Homo sapiens: one gene and its partners. The protein of the gene in region 1 purifies or fractionates together with the protein of each later gene. This does not show direct contact. Each region holds a gene or a part of one and is shown in the gene's direction. Other genes may lie near its edges.

Region 1 (3,500 bases):
AGCCCAGGAGTTCAATACCAGCCTGGGCAACATAGCGAGATCCTGTCTCTATATTTAAAAAAAAAACAAAAACCCATAACCAGAATGCTATTATTGTGCCTAAAACATTTAATAATAATTCCTCTATTCTCAGCAGTTTTTTCTGTAGTTTATTCCAATCAGGATCCAAATAATGTCCCTAAATTGCAGTGACCGTATTCTTATGGTATTCTTTGGCATGTTCTGTCCTCTGTATTTCCAATAGATTAATAGGTCTAGAGGCCTGAGAAGGCTCAGATTTGAGTTGGGGCAAGAATACTTCATAAGTGGTGCTGTTTACTGTCAGGAGGCAAATAATGTCTGGTTGTCACTTTTTGTCATATTAACAGCCATTGATGGTCATTATCTCGATCCATTATTTCATTAGGGGTTGTAAAATGGTGATAGTCTAATCCTGGCTTTATCCTTCATTTATTAGGCAGAATGATTCTATAAGAGAAACTTACCCTCATCAACTATTTAGATACCCTGAAATATAGTTTATATTGTAAGAGCAGGATAATTGCTTGATTTTTTTTGTTTTAATGACTTTTCAAATAATGAATTGGATTTTTAAAAAGTATTATTAACCCAAGGATTTAAACATATTTGACATATTTTAATCCATTACACATAAAATTATTCATAATGTTCAAATTGTTGGGACTTTTTAGGCTGTTTTATTTCTGTTGTCTTTCTACAACATCAGAACTGTATTTCATTGTTCCCTTTAGTGAATTTTTTTTTTTTTGAGACCGTGTCTCACCCTGTCACCCAGGCTGGAATGCAGTGGCACGATCACAGCTCACTACAACCTCAACCTTCCAGGATCAAGCCATCCTCCCACCTCTGCCCCCACTTTCCCCATACCTGGGACTACAGGCGTGTGCCACCACACCTGGCTAATTTTTGTATTTTTTGTAGAGACACGGTTTCGTCATGTTGCCCAGGGCTAGTTTCTAACCCCTGGGCTCAAGTGACCCACCCGCCTCAGTCTTCCAATGTGCTGGGATTACAGGGGTGAAACACTACACCCAGCCTCCTTTAGTGATAATTTTTATAGCAAAAGATGATTTGGTTAAATAAGTTAGAATACTTTTTAAAAAAATTCTTAAGAGGCAGTGTCTCGCTCTGTTGCCCAGACTGGAGTGCAGTGGGCTAATCATAGCTCATTGCAGCCTCGAACTCCTGGGCTCAAGTGATCCTCCCGCCTCAGCCTCCTGAATAGCTTAGACTACAGATGTGTGCCATCACACCCAGCTACTTTTTTTTTTTTTTAATAGAGACGGGGTCTTGCTCTGTTTCCCAGGTTCAGTTAGAAGCAGATTTTTTTAAGTAAAATTATCTTGTAAGTTTGAATAAGCTGGGAATTCAGATCATTTTATTGTCACCTTTCTTTGCCTTGAAAAATTAAGATGTATAGTCACCAGTTCAAAATTTAAAAAGAAAAGAAAAATTAAGATGCCCTCTAACATAGGAAGATTAAGTGAATTTGTATCAAATTAAAATCCCTATAGGAAGAAATATAAGAAAAAGAGGTCTAAGAAGAGCAGAAAAGAGTCCAGTGATTCAAGCTCTAAAGAATCCCAAGAAGAGTTTCTGGAAAATCCCTGGAAGGATCGAACAAGTAGGTTCTTCTGATAGACTAACTCAGAACAGATGAAACATTAAAGTAACCAATTAGTCAGAATGTGAATGTGTTTCTTAATATCTTTCATGCAGAGGCTGAAGAACCATCAGATTTAATTGGCCCAGAGGCTCCAAAAACACTTACCTCTCAAGATGATAAACCTTTGAAGTAAGCAGCAGTGTGTTTATAATATCTAAAGTACCTACCAAAAAGTCTGGTTCTAACTTACCTTGCCAAGCTTATCTGACTCTATTCCCTTATTTCTACTCCAGGTTCCAGCTGAGCTGGACTACTAAATATTCCCTGGGCTTAATGTGCACTTTGCAACTTTTATGCCATGTTCAGCTTATTTCTTCATCCAGTATGCCTTCCCTTCTTTTCCCTGCCCTCTGTTTTCTTCCCTATCGCCAGTTTCTTCCTGTTAAAATCCTTACTATCCTTCGAAGCCCTTTTCAAAAGGAGATGCATATGCTGATTCCCAATACTTCCCCTCCACAAGTAGGTGTGATTTCTGTTTCTCTTTGATCCTCACAGAATTTTTTATTCCTTTTTTTCTCTTTTTTCTTTTTTTACCAGCAGAATTTTTTTTTCTTTTTGTGAGACGGAGTCTCGCTCTGTTGCCCAGGCTGGAGTTTAGTGGCGTGATCTTGGCTCACTGCAACCTCTGCCTCCCAGGTTCAAGCGATTCTCCTGCCTCAGCCTCCTGAGTAACTGGGATTACAGGCACGCGCCACCACACTCAGCTAATTTTTTTTTGTATTTTCAGTAGAGATACGGTTTTACCATGTTGGTCAGGCTGGTCTCAAATTCCTGACCTCATGATCCACCTGCCTCAGCCTCCCAAAGTGCTGGGATTACAGGCGTGAGCCACCGCACCTGGTCTAGAATTTTTTTTTTGTTTGTTTTGTTTTGTTTTTTTGAGATGGAGTCTCACTCTGTCTCCCAGGCTGAAGCACAGTGGTGTGATTGAGTTTCACTCTGTTGCCCAGGCTGGAGTGCAGTGGCATGATCTTGGCTCACTGCAACCTCCACCTCCCAGATTCAAGTGATTCTCCTGCCTCAGCCTCCCAAGTAGCCAGGATTACAGGCGCCTGCCGCCACGCCCGGACTAATTTTTGTATTTTTAGTAGAGCTGGGGTTTCGCCATGTTGGCCAGTATGGTCTCGAACTCCTGATCTCAAGTGATCTGCCCGCCTCAACCTCCAAAAATGCTGAGATTACAGGCGTCAGCCACTGCACCCAGCCTACTTTGTTTTTTTTTTTTGTTTTGTTTTGTTTTGTTTTTTGAGACAAAGCCTTACTCTGTCGCCCAGGCTGGAGTGCAGTGACACGATCTCGGCTCACTGCAACCTCTGCCTCCCAGGTTCAAGTGATTCTCCTGCCTCAGCCTCCTGAGTAGCTGGGACTACAAGCATGCACCACCATGCCCGGCTAATTTTGTATTTTTAGTAGAGACGGGGTTTCGCTATGTTGGCCAGGCTGCTCTCAAGCTCCTGATCTCAGGTGATCCTCCCGCCTCAGCCTCCCAAAGTGTTCAGATTGTAGGCGTGAGCCACTGTGCCTGGCATACTTTGGATTTTTTAAGGGAAAAAGGGAAAGGGAATCAGCTGGAGCCAGAACCAGTAATGACAATACCTGTAGGGATAAATTAATCCATAATTGTAAACTGTGAATCTATACTCACAGCAGTTCTTTTCTTTCAAAATATTTCTGCATTTCTGGGTTAGTTGTATAGGTCATAGTGCAATGCAATGTTTAATACACTAATTAGGATAAAGCAATTCACATTGAGCTTCCTAGCACACTACTGCTGAGCACTGTTATTCCTACTCTTGTTTGAGAGAAAATGTGG
Region 2 (3,500 bases), on another chromosome or scaffold:
TAGGTTTTTCTCTGTTCTGCATGTGAATGTGGTGCTGTGGCATTTTGAAAGGACTGCAGGGGCTCATCAAACTTGTGGGTGAAAACTGAATTGTTCAGCCTGTAAAATAACAGTGATGGTCTCCACCATCTCCATTTTTTAAGAAAAAGATACGCTGGGGCGACAGTTGTACCTGTGCCTCCTCTGCGGGGTAGAGACGCCTCCAGGAGCACATGGGGACTGTCCCTATGTGTTCCTGACTGTGTGGACACTTATTGCTTACCGTGCTCCCTTGCTGCCTTTTTGTGTGCTCAGCTTTTGACTGCAAAGTAGACTTGTTGCCTTGCCAATTCGTTCACTCTTTAAACCCTTTTATCTTGTTATTAGGCTGCTCTTTGGCGTAAATTGCAATCGATTAGGGATCGTTTCTCAGAATCAAGTTAGAAGTGAGAGTTCAGATAAGTGAGGCCGCCATTGCTGCTTTGAACACCTCAGAAGGGGAGAATGGATTTATCAGGAGTGAAAAAGAAGAGCTTGCTAGGAGTCAAAGAAAATAATAAAAAGTCCAGCACTAGGTAATCCTTCTGTAAGATTTTTCTAGTGCTACTTGGGGGTGCTTACTGCTAGGGACCCGCAGAAAGGGGAAAGTTGAGAATGTTCTGCATTCTACAGTGAGTGTTCTGAGCCACAGACCACTTTGCTCTGTGGTCACCTCGGGTCTCTGTGGCCCTGCTGATGCTGATCCCCCGTTTTGGGTTGTGCTGTTTGGGTTTGGTCAGAGGAGCACGCAATCTCACACTCTTCCTCACCATCCAGGGCTCCTTCACCTACCAAACGCAAAGACCGCTCAGATGAGAAGTCCAAGGATCGCTCAAAAGATAAAGGGGCCACCAAGGAGTCGAGTGAGAAGGATCGCGGCCGGGACAAAACCCGAAAGAGGCGCAGCGCTTCCAGTGGTAGCAGCAGTACCAGGTGGGGCGGGCTGGCCTGGAGCCTGGAGAGGACCTGTGCCACAGCTACACCCCCACTCCCCACAGATGGCTCGGTTTTCTTGATTATTTACAAAGAAAACACATCCTCTGATTGTTAGTAGAGACCCTAATTTATGGCAGACTGGCTAGGTGCAGTGGTGGCTCATGCCTATAATCCCAGCACTTTGGGAGGCCGAGGCAGGAGGATTGCTTGGGGCCTGGAGTTCAAGACCAGCATGGGCAACAAAACAAGAGCTCGTCTCTACAAAAAAAAAAAAAAAAGAGTAATTTGTAAAATTAGCTGAGCGTGGTGGCATGCATCTGTAGTCCCAGCTACTTGGGAGGGCTGAGGCAAGAGGATGGCTTGAGCCCAGGAGTTTGAGGAAAATAAACAAAACTAGCCGGGTGTGGTGGTACACGCCTGTACTCCCAGCTACTCGGGAGGCTGAGTCAGGAGGATGGCTTGATTCCAGGGGGTTGAAGCTGCAGTGTGCGGAGATCATGCCACTGCACTCCAGCTTGGGTGGCAGACCCTGTCTCAAAAGAAAAAATCAACCTAGCCTGGGTCAGCATCAGCCAGCAGCTGCCTTCCCAGCCTGAGTTGGCAGTTGTGACTTTTGCCAGAGTCCTTTGCCTCCCAGCAGGAAAGGCTTCTGTATGGGTAGAAGGCAGCCCATCACCTCTGTCCTGTCCCACACACAATGTGACACCTAGGGCTCTGACTTGCTGGGGGATTGGGGGGTGATGTTTTCCCCACTGCTGAAAGCAGTGAGGCCTGGAGGCACCCGAACAGCAGGTTTCTCCTGGGGGGAGCACAACAGAATTGGAGGAGGCGTCTGTACTGTGAGACTTGGTGTGTGGTGGTTGTGACCCCTCATCTTGCCCTCAGGTCTCGGTCCAGCTCGACTTCCAGCTCAGGCTCCAGCACCAGCACTGGCTCAAGCAGTGGCTCCAGCTCTTCCTCAGCATCCAGCCGCTCAGGAAGCTCCAGCACCTCCCGCAGCTCCAGCTCTAGCAGCTCTTCTGGCTCTCCAAGTCCTTCTCGGCGCAGACACGACAACAGGAGGCGCTCCCGCTCCAAGTGAGTGCCCTGCGCCTGGGAGCTAAAGTTTACAAGCTCGGGGCTACAGATTTACCATCGAGGTTATAAAAGGGACCCAAAAGGAGTCTTTCTGTGTTAATAGGATTTCTGAGACAGGAATAATGTATGTGAACTAGCAGGAAAGTCTTCCTTATGAAAACTGTCACACAAGCAGATAAGAGCTTACTCGAAAGGCGTCTAGTACATTTTGACTTGACAGAAATTGTTTCTGGTGTTTTGTTTTCTCAATCAGATCCAAACCACCTAAAAGAGATGAAAAGGAGAGGAAAAGGCGGAGCCCATCTCCTAAGCCCACCAAAGTGCACATTGGGAGACTCACCCGGAATGTGACAAAGGTGAGGATCATGGATCTCTCCTGTGGGCAGTGGGGTGTGGACAAGCAGGCCTGTGCCTGCAGATGAACTTAGAATGTAGCCTTTTGGAGGACTGGGGTGGTGGCATGTGGTTTGAGTACAGCATTGATTCGTTCCTCTTGGTGGACCATTAATACATGTGTCTGGGAGATTTATCCCAGAACAACACTGGTACTCATCAGATGGAATGTTTTACCCTGCCGAGGTTTTAGTCATGATGTGCTGAGCTCTCTGCGTCTGACGTGACTGACTGGTAGCTGGGCGTTGGCGTGACCCTTCTTTCCCTCTAGGATCACATCATGGAGATATTTTCCACCTATGGGAAAATTAAAATGATTGACATGCCCGTGGAAAGGATGCATCCCCATCTGTCCAAAGGCTATGCGTACGTAGAGTTTGAGAATCCAGATGAAGCCGAGAAGGCGCTGAAGCACATGGATGGAGGTGGGTGACCCTGCCACATAACCCTGACCTCTCAGAGACCCGCCGCCGCGAGGGGCTTTCAAACTGATTTCCAACTGGGCTGCACTTCTTTTTGTTTGTTTGAGACAGAGTTTCACACTTGTTGCCCAGGCTGGGGTGCAGTTCCTGGACCAAACTGAGGTTTGGGCTGCTATTTCTCATGGCCCAATAACAAGATGCACATTAACTGAGTAGGTGGAGTTTTTATTTCTGCAACCAGTTGCAGGGAAAAGGCCTGGAAATTATTGCCAGACCAACTTAAAATTACAAAGTTTTTCAGAGCTTATATATTTTTTAAGCTATATGTCTATACATATGTGTACATTTATGTAAAGACATAAGTTACTGACTTTTAATCTATTAACTAAGGATTGAGTCTTGAAGACCTTCCTCTGGAGCCTCAGTAAATTGACTTAATTTAAATGGCTGTGAGTGCTGGGGTAATTACCCTTGCTTTGCCTTCTGCTAAATCACAGCAGTTTGGGGAGTTTTCTTCCCAATAAAACTGGCTTAATCCTAAATGGGTCCTGACGTATTCTTCGTTATTTTATGTTTTAAGGCCCAGGAAAGGCCTAAGCTAAACTTTTGGTGGGCTTTTCTTATATCCCAGCCTTTGTATAAGGGCCTTGGCTT
Region 3 (3,500 bases), on another chromosome or scaffold:
ACGCGTGAACTCTCCACAAAGTGACTTTGTGGTCACTCTGACCGAGGTGCCTGGCAGCCTCTGGGGAACTGCCGTGCCTGGGCAGGTGCAGCTGTCTGGCTCAGCCTCTCCAGGCTCATCCCGCCCACCTCCCCGTTCAGTTCCCACTACTGTGTGGCTCGCCATCAGGCCTGGGTAAACATGGCCTCTGCCCCCTCCCACCCCCCACCCCAGCAGCTGCCCTTGTGCAATTAGGCTCTTGTGGACCCTTTCTGATCTCACTTTTGTTTCCATAGGGAACTGTACCTGGGGAATGAATTGTAGGTTTATACACCCTGGAGTGAACGACAAGGGGAACTACTCCCTAATCACCAAAGCCGACCCCTTCCCGCCTAATGGTGCCCCGCCTCTCGGACCTCACCCGCTGATGCCCGCCAACCCTTGGGTGCGTGATGCCTCTTCTTTCATTGTTAGCACATCAGCCAACTGAGCTGTGTCTGAATCTCAAGCTTAAGACAAGTCACTGTGCCTTAGCACAGGCTCAGTGCCCCCTTTCGGCTGCTTCTGTCGTCCCGAGTGGAAGCAGGCCTCGGCTTTCCGAGGACGGAGTGAGGCTTGGTGGAAGGAGAGCGGCCACACACGGCCGGCTTGTGTTGTAGTTGATGTTTTTACTGTCTGGTTTCTCTGTACACTTGAAAGTTTTACTTTCTCACCTTCTCCCTTCTCGTTTTTCAATAGGGTGGGCCGGTAGTTGATGAAATTTTGCCTCCACCCCCTCCAGAGCCCCCAACAGAGAGTGCCTGGGAACGAGGACTCCGGCATGCAAAGGAGGTAAACACAATTCAGCAGAAATCCCGACAAGAAAGATGCTATTACAGGAGTGGTTCTTGACAAAACTGGGATTTCCTCGGTCCAGAGAGAGCCCCAGAAATCTCTGAAGTTAGGCGTCTGTTTCTGTGGTGTCTTTCTTTATTTTTTATTTATTTATTTTTTTGGAGACAGAGTTTCACTCTTGTTGCCCAGGCTGGAGTGCAATGGCCCAAACTCGACTCACTGCAGCCTCCGCCTCCCAGGTTCATGTGATTCTCCTGCTCGGCCTCCCAAGTAGCTGGGATTACAGGCATGCGCCACCAGGCCCGGAAGGATGGAGAGTTATATCTAACTGTCTCAGGCAGCAGCCCAGTAGGCCAGGGAGTTCAGTCCAGGGCATACCCACTGTCTTCATGGGGCTGGATCAGCACTGGGCCACACCCCAGCTGGCACTGCCCAGGAGCACAGGGTGCAGTCTCCAGCCACTCACAGAAAGCCTGGCGAGGCTGCCCGAGCCGCACCCCCAGGATCTGCACCCCACACTCCTGAGACTCAGTGTCTGCTCTTCCTGGAGAAAACTTGGAGCTTTCTGGTCCTATCACTGCACACTTCCTCCCTCTAGGCCCACGTTGGCCCCAGTGTGTGAGCTTCAGCTCTGGGGACCACTCTGCTGGCACCCAGCCCCACTTCCTCATTTTCCTGGTCAGCCTCCCTGCTGGGAAATGACGGACAAGATGTTCCTTCTCACTCCCTCGGCATGTCACTTCCTTCCCTCTGAGACTCCAGCCACTCCACCTGCTGCTTGTCACTGAGTGACTGAACCCTGGATCTAGTTCCAAGGGTAGTTGAAGGAAGTGATGAACACCTCATGTGGGCACACGGAGGCCGGGGGCAGCTGTTTGTGCAGAGACGGGCACAGACTGCCCTCCCCAGAAGGACAACTGTGCTGTGTCCGCCCCTCACCCCTTGAGCACTTGCAGCGTGCAGCTCCTGCTCCTGCAGGGCTGCTGCGGTCGGGTGGGACGGCTCCCTTTGTGTTTCCTAACAGCGACGCCCGGTATTCTGTTCCATGTTGACTTCTTTCTTCTTACAATGGTAGGTTTTAAAAAAAGCAACTATTCGAAAAGAACAGGAGCCTGATTTTGAAGAGAAAAGGTTTACGGTGACCATTGGCGAAGACGAACGGGAATTTGACAAAGAAAATGAAGTTTTTCGAGATTGGAATTCTCGGATCCCGAGAGATGTCAGAGACACAGTGTAAGGAATGGCCCTGCCTGCCCCTCCGTTTCCTTCCTGCATGCGGCCACGCTCCGGAGAGAGCAGCCATGTGCAGGGCCCCAGGGTGCGCTCGGCTGAGACCCAGCCCCACTCACTGGAGTCTCAGTGACGTTCCTGAGAGCATTCAGGCACGGTTCTCAGAGCTCATCTCAGTTTTTTGCTTCTAGGAAGGAAGCGTTAGGGCTCTGTGCCATGGGCCTTGACTGGCAGCACTCACACCGTTGTGGTTCCTGAGCTCTGAGAGTTTTCGCTGCTGTCCTTGAGGCCTCTAGAGCCCCACAAGTCTGTGTTTCTGGCTCCTCACCCCTGCCCACATTACCCAGGAGCCAGGAAACGTGTGGAGGTTGCCACAAGCCAGGAACACAACAGCTGCGGCCTCTTCGCTGTCAGGGCTGTTCTGCCTTCACTGCTTCTCCTCCAGGGCATTGATGGCTGGTTTTTGTTTTTTGGTTTTTTTTCCCGAGGCAGAGTCTTGCTCTGTCGCCCAAGCTGGAGTGCAGTTGCGCAATCTTGGCTCACTGCAACCTCCGCCTCCCTGGGTTGAAGTGATTCTCCTGCTTCAGCCTCCTGAGTAGCTGGAACTACAGGTGTCTGCTACCACACCCAACTCAGTTTTGTGTTTTTAGTAGAGATGGATTTCACCATGTTGGCCAGGATGGTCTCGAACTCCTGACCTCAAGTGATCCACCCACGCCTGCCTCCCAGAGTGCTGGGACTACAGGCGTGAACCACTGCACCCAGCCCCTTTATGCCTGGTCTTTAAAAATCCTGTCTTAACAGAAGAAGTGCCTGGGTCGAAGGGTGGAAGTCAGATCTTGGGGGATTGCATGGCATATAAAGTGCTGTTTTCCTCTGCCTGTGGATGGCACGGTGAGGTTCAGGGCAGGGAACTGGATTATAATTCGGGCAGATCTGAATTGGCACTCCATCATGCTGAGGCTTTAGCAGCCCTGTACATTTCTGGTTGCTATTAGGGAATCATAATCACTATGATTTCTATCTGGAGTGACAATAAACGGTGCTCAAAAAAGGAAGGCGTGCAGGGCTTGCACTCCAGGATTTGGTCCTGTCGACTTGGCCCTGCAAGGCCCTTCTCAAGGCCTTCTTGCCGCGAGCAGGCTACCCTGGGCTTTCCGCCTGCGGAAGTTGGGGGAGGAAGCCCCAGTGGCCCACACCTGCCCCAGCAGGTGAGAGCTTAGAGGTTAAAGGGATAGGTATTTAAAGACTTGGTTAACATGTACATTTTCTAATTAAGTTTTGTGTGGAATGTCAGATCACAGAAAGGAGCATTTGAGTCAGAACTCTGCAGGATCACCAGGGGTGTCTCCTGAAGCCCTGGAGGCCTTTGTGTTTTTTTGTTAGATGTGGATATCGTCTTTCCTTCCCCAGAGCTCGTGTGCACAGAGGTCTCTATAAATATGTGTGGGGAAGGA
Region 4 (3,500 bases), on another chromosome or scaffold:
GCTCATATCTGTAATCCCAGAACTTTAGGAGGATCACTTGAGCCCAGGAGTTGGAGACCAGCCTGGACAACATAATGAGACCCTCGACTCCATGCATGGTGATGTGTGGCAGTAGTCCAGACTACTAGGAAGCTGAGGCAGGAGCTTCCCTTGAGCCCAGGAGGGAATGCTACAGAGAGCAATGAACATGTGGCTGCGCTCCAGTCTGGGCAACAGAGTGAGACCCTGTCTCCAAAAAAAAAAAAAAAAAGGCTATATGCAGACAACCGACTCTTAACAGTAGTGACTAGATATAGTACTTATACACTTAACCACTCAACAGGAGGAGATGGACTTTCCTGATGCAAAGGCTTTTGCTGGCCAATTGGCAGAGATGCCAGGAATATGTGTGGGGATGGGAAATAGGCCTGGTGAGCTCAGCCACCTGACCCTCCTTGCTACACAGAAGCGGTCACGTCCTGTCAAGTAACCTGAATTATGTTTCTTAAAATTGAGAGGACTCAGATGTCTTTTTTCACTCTAGCTATGTTGTTTCCAGTCTCCAGTTAGCTTTGTTGTCCCACTCAGTGGCAGAGCGGTGCAAGACTACCCTCTTGAGTTTGGATCCCTCTTTGCTTTTGTCTGGGCTGTTAGCCACTAAGAAAAATGTAGGAATGAAATGTTGGGCTTCTGTGCCCACGTGGCCCATTTCTCATGCCCTCTTTTGGTCCTGCAGACACTCTCGAAAGCGATGGGAACGCTTTGTCCACAGTGAAAATCAGCACCTTGTCAGCCCTGAGGCCTTGGATTTCCTGGACAAACTGCTGCGATATGACCACCAGTCACGGCTTACTGCAAGAGAGGCAATGGAGCACCCCTATTTCTGTGAGTCCAGATATCTAGCCCACAGAGTTTGTGCAGGCGCAGAGTCCTATAGAACAGAGTCGTAATCCCAGCTCCTGTCAGCTTGCTGCAAAGTTAATTCACCCACACTGAGCCTCAGATTCTTCCAGTGGGGATAGTGATGGCAACTACATTGCAGAATTACTGGAAGAATTCTTCTGTAACAGAATACATGACACAAGAGCATTCCTAAATAAACTCTTTTCATACTGTGAGGATGACACTTCTCAGTGCCTCAGTCTGGAATGGTTGAATTAGAATACACAGCCCTGTATCTTTCCTGTCCCTAGTAATCATTCGTTGGAAAGAGCTAATGAGGCTTACAAATCTTAAAATTGTATGAACACCTTGACTTAGATTTGTGAGTATAGCCACCTGTGCCATCCTAAGTGAAAATACCACTGAGACCCACCCCATCTGCACTGTGATGTTAGCTGCAACATGACATTTTTCCTTCGGTGTGATGGTTTTGTACTGAATCATTTATACTTTTGCCCAATACCTGAAGCAGATAGATAGGCTGATTGGGATAGAGAATGTGGTCATAGCCCTAAGCTACATGGACCTATAGCTTTGGCCTACTTGGTACTGGGCTGTGGACACACTGGTAATATATTACCGTCTTTGCCGAGTTACAGTGTCTTGTCTCCATTAAACCTCAACAGGACCAGGGCTTCATTAAATTCGCTCTGCTATAAATAATTACCTCATCTTTCTACCATTTGATTGAAAGGTTAGCTTTTACCACAGTTTGATAGGAAAGCTATTTCTGCTTTTTACCACTTGTCTAATTCATGGTGAAGGCAATTGCCACCTTAAGTTCTTTGGGGAATAATGTAGAGTATATATAAATTGCAAAGAATGAAGCTGGCTGCTTTCAGGCTTCCAGACCATTAGTTTAATCTTTCAAGCAAAACAGAACCTAGCCTTTTTGTCTCTTTTCTAGACACTGTTGTGAAGGACCAGGCTCGAATGGGTTCATCTAGCATGCCAGGGGGCAGTACGCCCGTCAGCAGCGCCAATATGATGTCAGGTCAGTTCATTGGTAAATTTTCTTTAAAAAAATGTGGAAGTCAATTACTGTTCTTAGCTTTGTGGTCTGATTTCTTGTATACCTTCTCTTCTCCGTACTGGTGGCCTTGTGACTTTTTTTTAACCAGGTTTCAGCATGCTTGACATTTGGTATACTTTAGTGATACTGTCTTGAGTAGGGTATCCCCTTCTAGGCTAGAATCTCAGCATTCCTGGCTGAAAATTTTTGGCATAGGGGCTTGAAAGTGCCAAGCCATGAAAAGGAAAAATACACCATTTCATCTTATAGTTTGAAATGACAGTAGTTACATGGCCCTTAGAAACAATGTTAAGAAATGGGGTATAGAGGTGGGGTTTATACATAGGTGTGTATGTGTACAAGGACAGTTCCGTGACATGTGCCAGAGCAACTATAGAGTGCCTATCAGTTGTAAAAACATAAGTAAAATGGTTTTCCATTATTGGATCATTGTGACGCACAGTGAATTTTTATAGAGTACCCAGTTATTCCAAAGGAACTACAGGCACATAGCATAAGAATTATACATATAGGCAACATCCAAGTGGGTGCATATCTGGTAGTGAAGGCATTTACTTACATATCCTCAAATAATTGCTGTTGCCCTCCTCTTTTTTAAGAAAAGAACTAACTGCCTTCTAGAATTTACCCCTTGAGTATCCTACCTCTGTACAGAGTAATGTATATCCAAACTTACTTGTAGCCTTATTTGTAATAACAAAACATTGAGAATAGCTATCAGTAGGAAACTGGTTAAATCAGTTATGGTATATCCATTTAATGGAATGTGGTGCAGCCAGTAGAATAAGAGTTTCATGTTCTGTTAGATCTCCAACTCCAATATAATAATGTGAAATTTAAAACGCAAGATGCAGGGCCAGGTGCAGTGGCTCATGCCTGTAATCCCAGCACTTTGGGAGGCTGAGGCGGGTGGGTCACTTGAGGTCAGGAGTTCGAGACCAGCCTGGCCAGCATGGCGAAACCCTGTCTCTACTGGAAATACAAAAAATTAGCTGGGCGTGGCGGCGGCGCCTTTAATCCCAGCTACTTGGAGGCTAAGGCAAGATAATCGCTTGAACTTGGGAGGCAGAGGTTGCAGTGAGCCGAGATCGCACCGTTGCCCTCCAGCCTGGGTGAGAGTGAGACTCTGTCTCAAAAGAAAAAGTGAGATGCAGAGCCATGTCTAAGAGGAGTGGAGAAGAATGTATAATAATGTTCTCATATATATATATATATATATATATATATTTTTTTTTTTTTTTTTTTTTTTTTTTTTTTTTTTTTTTTTTTTGGAGACAAGGTCTTGCTCTGTGGCCAAGGCTGGAGTGCAGTGGCACAATCTCAGCTGCTGCAGCCTCCGCCTCCCGGGTTCAAGCGATTCTCCCACCTCAACCTCCCAGGTAGCTGGGACTACAGGCGCCCGCCATGACGCCCAGCTAATTTTTGTATTTTTAGTAGAGATGGGGTTTCACCATGTTGGCCAGGCTGGTCTTGAACTCCTGACCTCAGGTGATCCGCCCAACTTGGCCTCCCAAAGTGCTGGCATTACAGGCGTGAGACACTGCAC

The links. The genes of interacting proteins can lie anywhere in the genome.
Region 2: the proteins of NKAP (region 1) and RNPS1 purify together in Homo sapiens (co-immunoprecipitation; 4 studies listed by BioGRID and IntAct, with this or other methods). This does not show direct contact.
Region 3: the proteins of NKAP (region 1) and ZC3H18 purify together in Homo sapiens (affinity purification with mass spectrometry; 2 studies listed by BioGRID and IntAct, with this or other methods). This does not show direct contact.
Region 4: the proteins of NKAP (region 1) and CSNK2A1 purify together in Homo sapiens (affinity purification with mass spectrometry; 4 studies listed by BioGRID and IntAct, with this or other methods). This does not show direct contact.

Annotation. Positions count from the first base shown.
Region 1 is NC_000023.11:119,930,252-119,933,751, reverse strand, and holds part of NKAP (NF-kappa-B-activating protein), read left to right. Parts: intron 1-1,535; coding exon 1,536-1,645; intron 1,646-1,740; coding exon 1,741-1,816; intron 1,817-3,500. UniProt on the Homo sapiens protein: Acts as a transcriptional repressor. Plays a role as a transcriptional corepressor of the Notch-mediated signaling required for T-cell development. Also involved in the TNF and IL-1 induced NF-kappa-B activation.
Region 2 is NC_000016.10:2,261,627-2,265,126, reverse strand, and holds part of RNPS1 (RNA-binding protein with serine-rich domain 1), read left to right. Parts: intron 1-366; 5' UTR 367-483; coding exon 484-554; intron 555-795; coding exon 796-951; intron 952-1,839; coding exon 1,840-2,031; intron 2,032-2,284; coding exon 2,285-2,387; intron 2,388-2,695; coding exon 2,696-2,849; intron 2,850-3,500. UniProt on the Homo sapiens protein: Part of pre- and post-splicing multiprotein mRNP complexes. Auxiliary component of the splicing-dependent multiprotein exon junction complex (EJC) deposited at splice junction on mRNAs.
Region 3 is NC_000016.10:88,597,903-88,601,402, forward strand, and holds part of ZC3H18 (zinc finger CCCH domain-containing protein 18), read left to right. Parts: intron 1-275; coding exon 276-424; intron 425-717; coding exon 718-810; intron 811-1,888; coding exon 1,889-2,046; intron 2,047-3,500.
Region 4 is NC_000020.11:484,791-488,290, reverse strand, and holds part of CSNK2A1 (casein kinase II subunit alpha), read left to right. Parts: intron 1-715; coding exon 716-864; intron 865-1,828; coding exon 1,829-1,915; intron 1,916-3,500. UniProt on the Homo sapiens protein: Catalytic subunit of a constitutively active serine/threonine-protein kinase complex that phosphorylates a large number of substrates containing acidic residues C-terminal to the phosphorylated serine or threonine.